Regions from separate parts of the Homo sapiens genome. Here regions 1 and 3 are each linked to region 2. Evidence: fine-mapped expression QTL. A gene starts in region 2. Each other region holds a variant in brackets. All regions are shown on one strand. Distances are between the middles of the regions.

Region 1 (4,242 bases), 140 kb before region 2:
GCAAGAAAAAGCCAATGTCCCAGTTCAAAGATAGGCAGGCAGGAGAAACTCTCTTTTACTTGGGGAAGGGTCAGTCATTTTGTTCTATTTAGGCCTTTAACTGATTGAATGAGGCCCACCCATATTAGGGAGGGTAATCTCCTTTACTCAGTGTACCAATTTAAATGTTATTTTCACCTGTAAACATCCTCACGGAAACATCCAGAATAATGTTTGACCAAACATCCAGGCACCCTGTGGCTCAGTCAAGTTGACACATAAAATTAATCATCACAAGTGTTCTTTCATTTCAGCCTGAAGGACTCCCTTTAGCAACTTTTGTACAACAGGCATACTAGCAAAGAACTCTGTTAGTTTTTGTTTATCTGGGAATGTCTTAACTTCTCCTTCATGTTTGAAGAATAGTTTTGCCACATATGGAATTCTTGGTTGACAGTTTTTCTTTCAGCTCTTTGAATATGTCATCATATTGCCTTTTGGCCTCTGTGGTTTCTGATGGGAAATTAGCCATTAATCACATTAAGTATCCTTGTATATGACTCATCACTTCTCTCTGACTGCTTTCAGGATTCTCTCTTTGTATTTATCTTGACCATTGGATTATAATGTATCACAATATGAATATCTGAGTTTATCCTACTTGGGGTTTGTTGAGCTTCTTGCATGTGTAAATTCATATCCTTTACTTTTACCAAATTTGAGAAGTTTTGAGCCATTATTTCTTCAAATATTCTTTCATCCCCTTTCTTTCTTTCCTCTCCCCCTGGGTCTTCTGGTATGCATATGTTGGTACCATCAGTGGTATTCCACAGGCCACTTACGCTCTATTTGTTTTTCTTCATTCTTTTTTCTGTCCCTCAGACTGGGTAATCTCAATTGACCTGTCTTCAAATTCACTGATTCATTCTTTGCCTACTCACATAGCTGTTGACCCCTTCTAGTGCATTGTTCATTTCACTTATTTTACTTCTTAACTCAAAATTTCTAAGTCCTTTTTTATAATTTCTATTCTTTTACTGAAATCTGCTATTAGGCGAGACACTGTTTTCATGCTTTCCTTTAGTTCTTTGCATATGGTTTCTTTTAGCTCTTTCAGTACATTTAAAAATACTTGATTTAAAATCTTAATCTATTAAGTTCAATTCCTGAGCTTCCTCAAGGACAGTTTCTATTAATTATTTTTGCTGCGTATGAACCATACTTTTTTCTGTCTTTTCATGGCATGTAATTTTTTTTGTTGAAAACTGGACATTTTTACTGTTATAATGTGACAACTCTGGAAATCACATTCTGCTCCCCTTTCAGGTTTGTTGTCATTGTTTGCTAGTTGTTTTTGTTTGTTGTTGTTGTTGTTGTTGTTGTTTACTTAGTGACCTTTCTGAACTAATTTTTTAAAGTCTGTATTCTTTGTCACGTGTGGCCACTGAAAAGACTTTTCCATTAAACTTTTCCACTAGTGGTTGGCTAGTGATGACTGAAATTTCCTTTATACCTAGAACAACATAAAAAAAAAATTCCCAATATCTTCAGATGAGCTCTGTATGTGTTTTGAGGTGTGGCTTTTAACACTTAGCCAGGCTGTTTACAACTCTGCCTTAACCTTCCTTTTCTGCTTGCAGAGTCTGGAGGTCAGTCAGAGGTGAGAGTGTAGAGTCTTCTAGGATATTTTCTGAGCATATGTGTGACCTTCTTAGATATCCAGAAAGCTTTTTAAAGCCCTTATTTCTTAAAGTGTTTCCTTCTCCAGCCTTTTTTCTTAAGCTTTTGGTTTGTCTATTATTTCCCTAACTGTTACCATTAGTGAATGCATTTGTTTTTAACTCTGTGCATGTGTGTGTGGTTTGTTTGTTTTTCCAAATGCCCCAGGTAGCTGCTTCAGCCCTGGGAGAGTTCTAAGTTAGGTGAAATTAAAGTAAATCTTTTGTGCTCATCCTTCAGGGAACCAACAGACAGGTCAAAACAGGCAACCACAATCCTTTGAGAGTAAGTTCCATTCTGCTCCCTCGAACACTAAGAACCTATATCAAGAATGCAGGCTGTTGTCTTCAAGGCTGCCACCAAGCTGGGAAAGAGGAGAATGGAGCCCAGGTATGTTAAAACACCACAGTGTTTTCCCACTGAGATTTAGCCGTTTTTCTTCTTGATTAAAATTTATTGGCTGGGCATTGTGGCTCATGCCTGTAAACCCAACACTTTGGGAGGCTGAGGTGGGTGGATCATTTGAAGTCAAGAGTTCAAGACCAGCCTGGCCAACATGGTGAAACCCTGCCTCCACTGAAAATACAAAAATTAGCTGGGCATGGTGGAGGGCACCTGTAATCCCAGCTACTCAGGAGGCTGAGGCAGGAGAATCGCTTGAACCCAGGAGGTGGGGGTTGCAGTGAGCCAAGATCACACCACTGCACTCCAGCCGGAGCAACAGAATGAGACTCTCCCTCAAAAAAAAAAAA[A/C]AGAATTTATTTTATTAAAAAAAAGAATTTATTTTATTTATTAAACTTTTTATTAGTCTCCAGAGTTCTAATAAAGTTGATTTTGCCAGTTTTTTTCACTGTTTTTTATGGAAAAAGGAGTTTTGGAGTTCTCTATTCCATTTTTGCTGATACCATTCTTAGATCATTTACATTTAATGGAATTACTGATATGGTTGGATTTGTGTCTACCATTTTAAGGACATTTATTGTGTTTTTAACTTTATCTGCTTGTATAGTTCTGTTTGTTTTTGTTTTTGTTTTTAGTGGTTGCTCCAGGGATTACAATATACGTCTTTACCTTTTCATGGTCTACTTAGAATCAATATTTTACCATTTTAAGTGTAATGTAAAACTTTAGTTTCTTTTATTCTACCCTCTTTATGTTGTAGTTGTCTTATGTGCTATCTACATATAACATTGAAAACACCATCAAAAAATGTTATAATTTTTGTTTTAACCATAAAACGTATTTTAAAGAACTCAAGAGCAGCACAGAATGTTGCATTACCTCAGATCTTTACCATTTCTGTTGGTCTTTTTTTCATTCCTGATATTCCAAGTTAACTTCTGGTATCATTTCTCATCTGTCTGAAAAACTTCTTGTAGCAATTATTTTAGGACGGGTCTGTTGTCAAAGAACTCTCTTAGTTTTCCTTCATCTGAAAACGTCTTTATTTCACTCTCACTCCTGAAGCATATTTTCATTGAGTATTCTTGAAATTGTGAAGAGAATGGTGGGTTGATGGTTCTTTTTCTTCATTTTAAAGATGTGATTCCACTTCCTACTGGTCTCTACGATGAGATTTCCTCTCTCCTCATGAGGAAGCTGAAGTCATTTGAATTGTTCTCCTATGTGTGATGTGTCATTTTTCTCTAGCAATGGTACATGTATGCTTATATGTATGTATGTGTGTATATATATATATATATATGTACATATATTCTTCAGTTTTATGTCCTTTTCCAAATTGAAGATGTTTTTAGTCAATATTTCCTCAAACATTTTTATCTTCACTGCACTCTTTCTTCTTTCCTTCTGGAACTCTAATGACATAAATATTAGACCTTTGGTATTGTCTCACTAGTCTCTGAGGTTCTATTCACTTTTTAAAAATCTTTTTCTCACTGTTTTTCTGTTTGGATAATTTCTGTTGGTCTGTCTTCCAGTTACTGGCTTCCTCTTTCCTCTCATTTATATTCTGCTCTTGAGTTACCTAGTGAGCACTGAAATTTTGGTTCTTATATTTTATTTATTTATTTATTTATTTATTTATTTATTGAGACGGGGTCTTGCTTTGTCACTCAGGCTGTAGTGCAGTGGTGTGATCACGACTCACTGCAGCCTCGAACTCCCAGGTTTGAGCTATCCTCCCATCTCAGCCTTCCAAGTAGCTAGGACCACAGGTTCATGCCAACACACCTAACTTATTATTTTTTTTAGAGACGGGGTCTCACTTTGTGGCCCAGGCTAGCTTCGAACTCTTGGGCTCAAGTTATCCTCCTGCCTTGGCCTCTCAAAGTGTTGGGATTATAGCATGAACTACTATGCCTGGCCCTTATATTTTTAAGTTCCAAAACTTTTACTTCCCTATTCTTTATATCTCCTATTTCTTTGCTGAGACTGTCCATCTTCCATTCATTCCAAGAGGGTTTACTTGGAGCATTTTCATAGTAGTACTTTAAAGTCTTTGTTACTTAATTCCAACATCTCATCATTGGTCTCTTTTGATTGTCTTTTCCCATGCAAAATGAGATTTTTCCTATCATAGGC
Region 2 (4,242 bases):
TGTGAACTCCGCCGTCCTGCTGGGTGGTTTCTTGCTGCTGCACTGGGGCCTTCAGCTCACTATTATGCTGAGCTGAACACCCTAGGCTCACGGAGAGGCCTCCTCTTCTGGGAAGCCTTCTCTAACCTGCGAATTGGTCATCTGCACATTTAGTGAGCCTATCTATCAATGAGGGCTATTCACTGGCTACTTACTCAATGCTGCTGAAACTTCAGGGAGCTAGAGTGCCAGTGTCTAAAAAAGACACAAAACACATACATCATTAACATCATGTTCCTACATCCAGCTCCAACAACTGCTCCAACAGGTTCGGAGGGGACAGACAAAACCACCCAGAGGGAAAATCCAAGGGGATGAGAAATGAGAAAGGCTCCCCTACACCCTATGACCTAAGGCTGTATGCTTTAACTAAATCTGGCCGACAGCCTTGCCTCATAATACCTGAGAAAATATTCCAGGTCAACAAGTCACCCTGAACCCATCTTCAGATGAATGGATCTTAAAGAGTGACAACTGACGGCCTGGCGTGGTGGCTCACGGTTGTAATCCCAGCTTTGGAGGCAGAAGCAGGCAGATCACGAGGTCAAGAGATCGAGACCATCCTGGCCAACACGGTGAAACCCCGTCTCTACTAAAAACACAAAAATTAGCTGGGCGTCGTGGCTCACAGCTACTCGGAGACTGAGGCAGGAGAATCACTTGAGCCCGGAAGGCGAAGATTGCAGTGAGCCAAGAACGCACGACTGCGAAGGTTGCAGTGAGCCAAGAACACACGACTGCGCTCCAGCCTGGTGACAGAGGGAGACTCTGTCTCAAAAAAAAAAAAGACTGACAACTGACCATGGGAAAAGGCAAACAATTACTTACAGGGCATGACCAGATTGTCGTTTTTGGGTTGTGGACGGTAGGGGAAGGAGTAACTAGAGGAAAAAGGGAAGAGGCAGTTGTATACACATGCTTTATTTAACTTTTAAAAGTTCAGGAAAGAGAAGTATTTCTTCTCTTCTAAAAAGAAATCAAGAGACTAGAGGAAAAACGGGATAGCCCCTGGCCCAAGTCCTGGCTCTGCTACTTACCACCCCCAACCCCAACTAGAGTAAGTCCTGGACACACAGGGCCATAGAGCATCGCCCAGGGACCGCCAGGACCTTCCTGGTACCCTCTTCAAAGTGGCCATCAGGACGGGAGGCCAGACTGACCACCTGTGCAGGGAGGAGCACACTGTGGCTGGAGGTCACCTCGTGAAGCGTTCCCAAGCCACCTGGCTGGAGGGTCTCCATCGCTAGGGTGTTGACCGTTGGGGGAGGGGGAGTGACAGCGTCCAGTGCGCATCTGGGAGAGAGGAGCTCGGGTTCAAGGACCGCGACAGGTCCTCCGAGCCCTGGTCTCAGCCCCAGCAGGGGCCGGCACCCACCTCGGTCACAATGGTGGACAGGTAGACGTCCTGACTGAACTCCCAGCCATCCAGACAGCTCTCCTGCTCCAGCTGCCCCAGGTCCACGTCGCGCCCCGGCTCCAGCCCAAGCGCCGAGAAGTTGGCGATGGTGGCGAGCCGGTAGCGGCGGCAGCTGTGGGGCACCTCGCGGCCGTCCCGCAGCCGCAGTGGGACAGTGTGGTTGCGCCAGGCGCTGCTCAGGTTCGCGGCGTCCGGCACCCGGCAGCGGTGCTCCGGGGTCGCTATCAGGAACACGGAGGACAGGCCGGTGAAGCCATTGGGGATGATGCTGGCGCTGAGCAGGAAGAAGATGAGGCGCTGGAAGGGCCCCCACTCGCCCAGGAAGGCGGTCACCTCGTCGTAGTCCCGCATGCCGCCCTCAGAGGCCCACAGAGCGCGGCCTGGGGTCGGGGAACGCGGCGGGCTTTGCGCGTGCGCGCGGGGCACCCGCCGCCGACCAGGCAAGCCAGGCAGCAGGCGACCCAAGACCGTCCGCGGAGGGTAGGCTCGCGAGCTGACACCGCCGCCTTGGTCCTGCCGCGGCTGGCCTTACATAGGGCGCACGACCAGGGAAGGTTGCGGGCCTGGGCCGCAAGGCGCGCCCCGCTGGCAGGCAGAGCGGCGCCGGCGAAGGCGGAGCTGGGGCGGGACGCGAGGGCGCGGGGCGGGCCGGGAGTGCACCTGAGGCCCGGGCGGGGCCTGTCCTGGGGACCTGGCGAGGCCCGGCCTCTGCCAGCCAAGCCTGCTGGGGACGACCGAGGTAGCCCGGGCTCGGCTTAGGAAGGCAGCGGGACTCGAGGCCTTGGGGTCCGAGTCCGAACTCGCTCCTCTAGCGCCGGGCGGGGAGCGAGTGGGAGAGCGGCCGCGAAGCTCCAGTGTTGAAAACGCACCCCTCCCAGCTTTTTGCAAGGCCTACTTGGGGGCGGAGGTAAGGAGAAAGTCACTGGCCCAGGGTCTCACAGATAGTTGCTCTTGACACCGCCTAATCTTATAAGAGGGACGGGGATTATTTTGAACCTGGGACTGTTAACTACCCTAGTAGAGAGGCTGGGAGCTATGACTTTTCATTCTAGTCCAGATGCCCTTTCCACATTTTCGTCTGTAACAAGCCATTTTGTTCATGCAGATGTAAAAATTTAACTTCACGATTAACGATCCTAGCCTAGGGTTAAATATTCCCCACAGATTAGTTATTTCCGTGCAGAGTTTATTCAGAAGCTAACTGGAAAAAAAAAAAAAGCAGCGAGGTGATTCTAAAGCAGCAATGTTCCATAGGATAAGGAGCTACATTTGTTATGTTAACTTTTCTAGTAGCCATATTAATAAAATTGCCAGATTTAGCAAATAAAAATATAGGACTCCTAGTTAAATTTGAATTTCAGATATAGAATGAATAATTTTTAAATATTATGTCCCAAGCAGGAATATATAAAATAAAAATGTAACTGGTTGTCCTGTATTTTATTGGGCAATGCTGCATATTTAAAAAGTAAAAATAAAAGATGAAATTAACTTTAATGGTATATTTAATCAAGTATATCCAGAACATGATCATTTCATCATATAATCAATATAGAAATTATTGATATTTTACATTGTTATATGTAAATCATTGATCTTTTTTTCCCCTCCTCATACTAAATCTTAAGAATTCAGTGTGTTTCACAGGTTCTCAGGATTTGAAAAAAAAAAAAAAAGGAATCCAGTGTGTATTTTACAGCACATTTCAATTTGGACTAGCCACACTTTTTATTTTTTAATATTTATTTATTCATTTATTTATTGGAGACACGGTCCCACTGTGTCACCCAGGCTAGAGTGCAGTGGCACAATCATAGCTCACCGCAGCCCTGAACTCCTAAGCTTAAGTGGGCCTCCTGCCTCAGCCTGCTGAGTAGCTAGGACTACAGGCACATGCCACCGTGCCCAGCTAATTTTTTTATTTTTTTTATTTTACAGAGACAAGGCATCCCTGTGTTGCCCAGGCTGGTCTCAGACTCCTGGGTTTAAGCAATCCTCCCACCTCAGCCTCCCAAAATGCTGAATTACAGACGTGAGCCACTATGCCTGGCCAGACTCATTTTTTAAGTGCTCAGTAGCCACATGTAGCTATTGGTTATCTTATTGGACAGCACCATTCCTAAGGCCTTTAAGAATTTGGGCTGCTAAACTTAACAATGCAAGATATTCCTTTTTAAAATAGTAGTGGCTTAGTGATAGAAACAGAACTAAGTGTATATTTTTACAATATAATGTGTTGAGTAAAGAATATTTAATAGTCACTATATTATGAGTTGAAAATAAAGCTACAGAAAGGGAACCTAACCTGGCCAGCAGATTTTTAACAAGGAAATCTAAACATTTGCATAAAGCATAATAGACTTAAAAAAATTATGATAAAGATGTTATCACAGGACTTGTTTGTTTCTTTATACTTACTATTCACTATTCTTACTTCCTGAAGATGGATGGTTATACCTTCAGCAATGTACTTAAATCCTTCTAACATCTTATGTGAAGTTATAGTTCTTATCTAGAACTAACTGAAAAAGAAAGCAAAGCTTCTTGAAAATAAACTCCTTTTTTGTGTGCTAAAATATTATTTTAATGCTTCAAAAGAAATGAAAGCTTTTATGAGAAGAATGTTGACCTCTGTCCAGACCAAACAAGATGAAGAAGTCTTATTTTAACATTTGAGAAATATCAGTTGGGCATCAGATAACATTCCTGAAAGGGACTGAAAACAATGCAGTATACTACAAAAGAAGCTGCATATCCTTAGGAAGAAAAGAAACTATTTGTCATAG
Region 3 (4,242 bases), 92 kb before region 2:
ACCTGAGGTCTGTAGGAAACCCCGGCTGTGGACTTCACACAAGGGTCGCTCTTTCCCACACTCCAGGTTTCCCTTTAAGCTGCTAATTTGTAACAGGCATTCATAGAAACAGAATAAGATAGAGAAATTCTATTAAAGGACCTTATGTGCTTTTGCTCTGTCTGTTGCTCCATTTATTTGCAATTTATAGCCTAATCCAAGAGGATTTAAGGACAATTAAATATTTCTTTCCCCTCAGTGTGTGTGTGCGAGTGCACGTGTAAGAGTGTGTAGGGGTTGGGTCTTCCAATGTACCTTTGCCCTGGTTTGACCGTGGGGGGAGAGGGTGGGCAGGTCTCCAGGCCTGCCAGATGTAGACCTTTCCTAATGTCTACAGCAAATTTGTTCTTCAGTGTTTCTAGTATCAGTTTTTGATCAATCATTAATCAAAGTTGCAATAAAAAGATAATCTTCTCAGGACTAGGCTATAAAGGTCCTGGCTGCAACCTTAAAAAACCCTTCTGTGGAGGCCTCAGAGCCAAGAGAAAAGGGCGATGTGTCTGTGGCTGGATTTGGAGGTAAATGAACGTGCTGTCCCTCTCTAATTGGTGTGCACGAACATGAACTTCAGTCACTTGCGTGGCTATGGCCTCTTTCTTCATCTCTCCCTGCCAGTGAAGCTGGTGGTGCCCTGGCTCCCAAGCCAGGTGGCAAAGCTGGGGAAGGAGGCTGTAGTTGGGCCCAAATATGGGGGTCTGGGGGCACCTCCACAGGTTGTGACCACTGCAGCATGCTCTGGGGCCAGGCCTATGGCAGTGGAGGCAGGACAGCCCCCAGGACCACAGAGCCCCCATAGTGGAGGGAGCCACTACTTGGGCGGCTCAGCTCATTCCTGCTGACTTGCTGCTGTACAGGGCAGAGGGGTGCCTGAGACAAAGAGGAGACACACTTCTCCCACGAGAAATAAAGCAAGCAGCTGTTCCTCTCTTGGGCCCAGCAGGGGTCAGAGGCTGTGGGACCTTCACTCCTTCCCTCTCAGTGGAGAGGGCAGATCTGCTCTTTGGGGTGTGAGGGCACAGCCTCCTGACAAGCTGGAGAAGCAGGATTTAAGAGCTAGAATCAACGGAGAATGTGAGGCCCAGCATCAGGTTCAAGAAGCAAGGGGATCAAGGTTGGGGGGGAGGCAGGGAGCCTGAGCCTGGCGCAGCCCAGACCAACAGACTGAGGAGTCCAGAGAGCCAACATGCTCACTCGGCCATCGCTAAGATGTGTAGTGTGTGAGAAGGTGTGAGAGGTACTCGCGTTTCTCTCTCCAACCCCTTCCAACATATTATTGGGTCGTGGGTGCCATGTTTTTAGTAGACACATAAAATAAATGAGTATTTTCAGAGAAGTGCAACCCTGGAGGTGCAGGGGAGTGAACTCAGCCATGAGAAATCATTCAAAGGATTGACCTATGGAACAGGGATAGACTTGCTCTCCATGGCTCCAGCAGGGAAGCAGCAGAGAGGGGAACCTTTCCTGAAAGTCCAGTGTGACATCTGAAGACACACACACACACACACACACACTTTTTTGAGAGAGAGAACGAGAATGAAAAGATACACACTGATCTTTCAACAGTCGTTGTCTCTACCTGGTGATTGCGAATGATTTTAATTTTTTTCCTCTTGTGCTTACAGTATTTTCTAAAATCTCTAAAATACACCCAAATTACTTTCTTGTTATGGCAAAATAGACATAAAATGTCTACATCCATTTTAACCATTTTTAAGTGCAGAGTTCCATAGTATGAAGTACATTCTCACTGTTGTGCAGCCATCACCACCATCCATCTCCAGAACTTTTTCATCACCCTCAACATAAACTCTGCATCCACTAAGCAGTATCTCCCTGTTCTTCCTCCTTCCAGCCCCTGGCAACCATCCTTCTACTTTCTGTCTCTATGAATTTCACTATTCTAGGTACCTCATATAAGTGGGATCATCTGGTATTTTTCCTTCTGTGTCTGGCTTATTTCACTTAGCATAATGTTTTTAAGGTTCATCTATGTTATAACATGTACCAGAATTTCATTCCTTTTTAAAGCTGAATTATGTTCCATTGTACATATTCACCATATTTTGTTTATCCACTCCTC[T/C]TGTCATGGACATCTGGGTTGTTTCCACCTTTTGGCTATTGTGAATAATACTGCTACAAACACTGGTGTACAAATATCACTTTGAGTCCCTGCTTTCAATTCTTTTGGGTATATTCCTAGAAGTGGAACTGCGGGATCATATGATAACTAAGTTTTTGAGGAACCACCACATTGTTTTCAACAAAGGCTGCATGATTTTACGTTCCCAATAGCAATGCACAAGGGTATCTATTTCTTCACATCCTTGCCAACACTTATTTTCAGGTTGTTTTTGTTGTTTTAAAATAGCCATCCTAACAGATGTGAAGTGGTATCTTACTTATTATGGTTTTCATTTGCATTTCCCTAATCTAAATTACGTTTTAAAATCCAATCCTCTCTGAATTGAACCCTTTGTTCTTTATTTCTCAATAAAATGGACCTTGCCCCCTTTTTTTCCTTCTTTGTACCTATGCTCTGCATTTTAAAAAATTGTGGCAAAATACATATAACTTAAAACTTTACCATCTTAACCATTTTCAAGTGTAGAGTTCAGTATTAAGTATATTCACATTGTTGTGCCCTAACCCAAATATAGTATATAATGGCAAAAAGAAACAAAAGGCTCTCTAAAGAAAAAGAAAGCCGTGAATTCTTGGACCCCAGAGATGTTCACAAACAGATTGGATCAATCTCAGCAGGGACTTTCATTCATCTTCTGAGCATCTCTGCTGGGCTGGGCTCTGTGCCAGGCAGGGGTCTCCGTGGTGAGTGTGGCCTGGACTCTGCCCTTGGGGTTCAGCCTCTGTGGGGAACAGTTATACCCAAGGGCTGCTGTGGGCACAGAGGGACACCCTGTTGTGTGGGTGCGGCATTGGGAAGGGGCATAAGTGAGGTGGCACATGAGTTCAGGTGGGAAGGATGAGCAGACATGTACATGTGCAGAGAAGGGAACTGGCGTGTGTGGCTGGGCTGTGGCAGCACACCTCACAACCACCATTACAGGAGCATCTATTAATCATTTATGTCTGTCTCTCTACTTGATTATAAGCTGCATGAGAGCAGGGCTGATGGTTTTGTTCACTGCTGCATTGCTGCCATGCCCAGCACAGGCAAGTGTAAAAGAAACACTTGCTGAATAAATGAGTGGTTGATGACGAGGAAAAAGGAGACATTTCTTTCCAGAATCTTGGCTGTAAGCAGCAGACAGCATGGCTGTACTCCACGGGGAAGGCAGGATGGCAGGAAGCATTATACAGGTGATGGAGACAGGAGCACAGCAGGAGCCAGTGGAGAAGAAGAGTTTGAAGATTCCCTGGTTGAGAGAATGGAAGGGCGTAATTGCTGGGGAGAGGTCCCTGAAGAAAGGGGAGAGGCTGGGATGCAGGCTCAGTGGAAGGAGAGGAGTCTCCTTATGAGACTCAGATGGCCAGTGTGAAAAAGACAGAAGATACCAACTGCTGGTAAGAATGGGAAGCACACTGCATGGGGAACTCTCCTACACTGCTGGAGGCGTGTTCTTCCTGTTATTCTAGATTCAGACAGCACTCTGGTCGCTGGTTGGTGCAGGCCACCATTTGGGCCAATTAGAGGAACCCCAATATCTGCACTTGGACTATCAGAAATGAGAGCTCTACGCCCAGAGCAATTTCCAAGATGGGCCTGAATCCATGAGTCATGGCACTACATGGAGCCCAGGGTTGGCTCTGAGCCTAACAGCCTCCAAAATGTCAACTTTGTTCACGTGCCACTTTGTCCCTCATCTCATGCCATGCAGCTGGCAGGACTTCAGTTGACAGAAGGTAGACCCTGCTCTTTTCAAAAAGCACACAGGACAGGTGCTGATAGGCCAGCCCCTCCCACTGAGCTCTAGTTACTGCGGTGAACTTCACCAGGAGGTTCAGCGCCCACTGTGGCTCTGCCTGAGGGGCCTCTGTGCACACTCAGTCCAGGCACTAGCATCCCAGCGCCTGGCCAGTGGTCCAACTCCAGACTCACTACACAGAGCCCCTTGCAACCGATGTGTGCCAACATGGAGCCCACACAGGGCAGCTCAGCGTGACACCTGCACAGCTCAAGACTGAGGGAAGGAAATGCATCTTCTTTCTCAAGTTGGAAGAGGCTGTACTGAATTACCAAATGGC

Which allele goes with the higher level. Alleles are on the strand shown, and positions count from the first base shown. SD is a standard deviation of normalised expression in the study named. Not every link is listed here.
As copies of T replace C in region 3, the expression in Th2 cells of the gene that starts at base 1,864 in region 2 goes down (moderate effect, 0.73 SD a copy in Schmiedel 2018).

The links.
Region 1: its variant is fine-mapped to the expression of MIR3936HG in whole blood (TOPMed, PIP 0.97).
Region 3: its variant is fine-mapped to the expression of MIR3936HG in Th2 cells (Schmiedel 2018, PIP 0.95).

Annotation. Positions count from the first base shown.
Region 1 is chr5:132,506,536-132,510,777 of GRCh38, reverse strand. No RefSeq gene overlaps it. Among named protein-coding and RNA genes, the nearest start is that of IRF1, 18 kb to the right of the region's middle. The variant A/C (reference allele first, on the strand shown) is at 2,451.
Region 2 is chr5:132,367,538-132,371,779 of GRCh38, reverse strand. It overlaps MIR3936HG (MIR3936 host gene), which reads left to right and starts at 1,864. Exons shown (of 8, transcript NR_110997.1): 1 at 1,864-1,936. SLC22A5 (solute carrier family 22 member 5) reads right to left here and starts at 2,070. Exons shown (of 10, transcript NM_003060.4): 1 at 1,415-2,070. The coding sequence starts at 1,807. RefSeq lists a silencer at 1,868-2,187.
Region 3 is chr5:132,459,733-132,463,974 of GRCh38, reverse strand. All of the region lies in intron 3 of CARINH (colitis associated IRF1 antisense regulator of intestinal homeostasis), which reads right to left. Among named protein-coding and RNA genes, the nearest start is that of IRF1, 29 kb to the left of the region's middle. The variant T/C (reference allele first, on the strand shown) is at 2,120.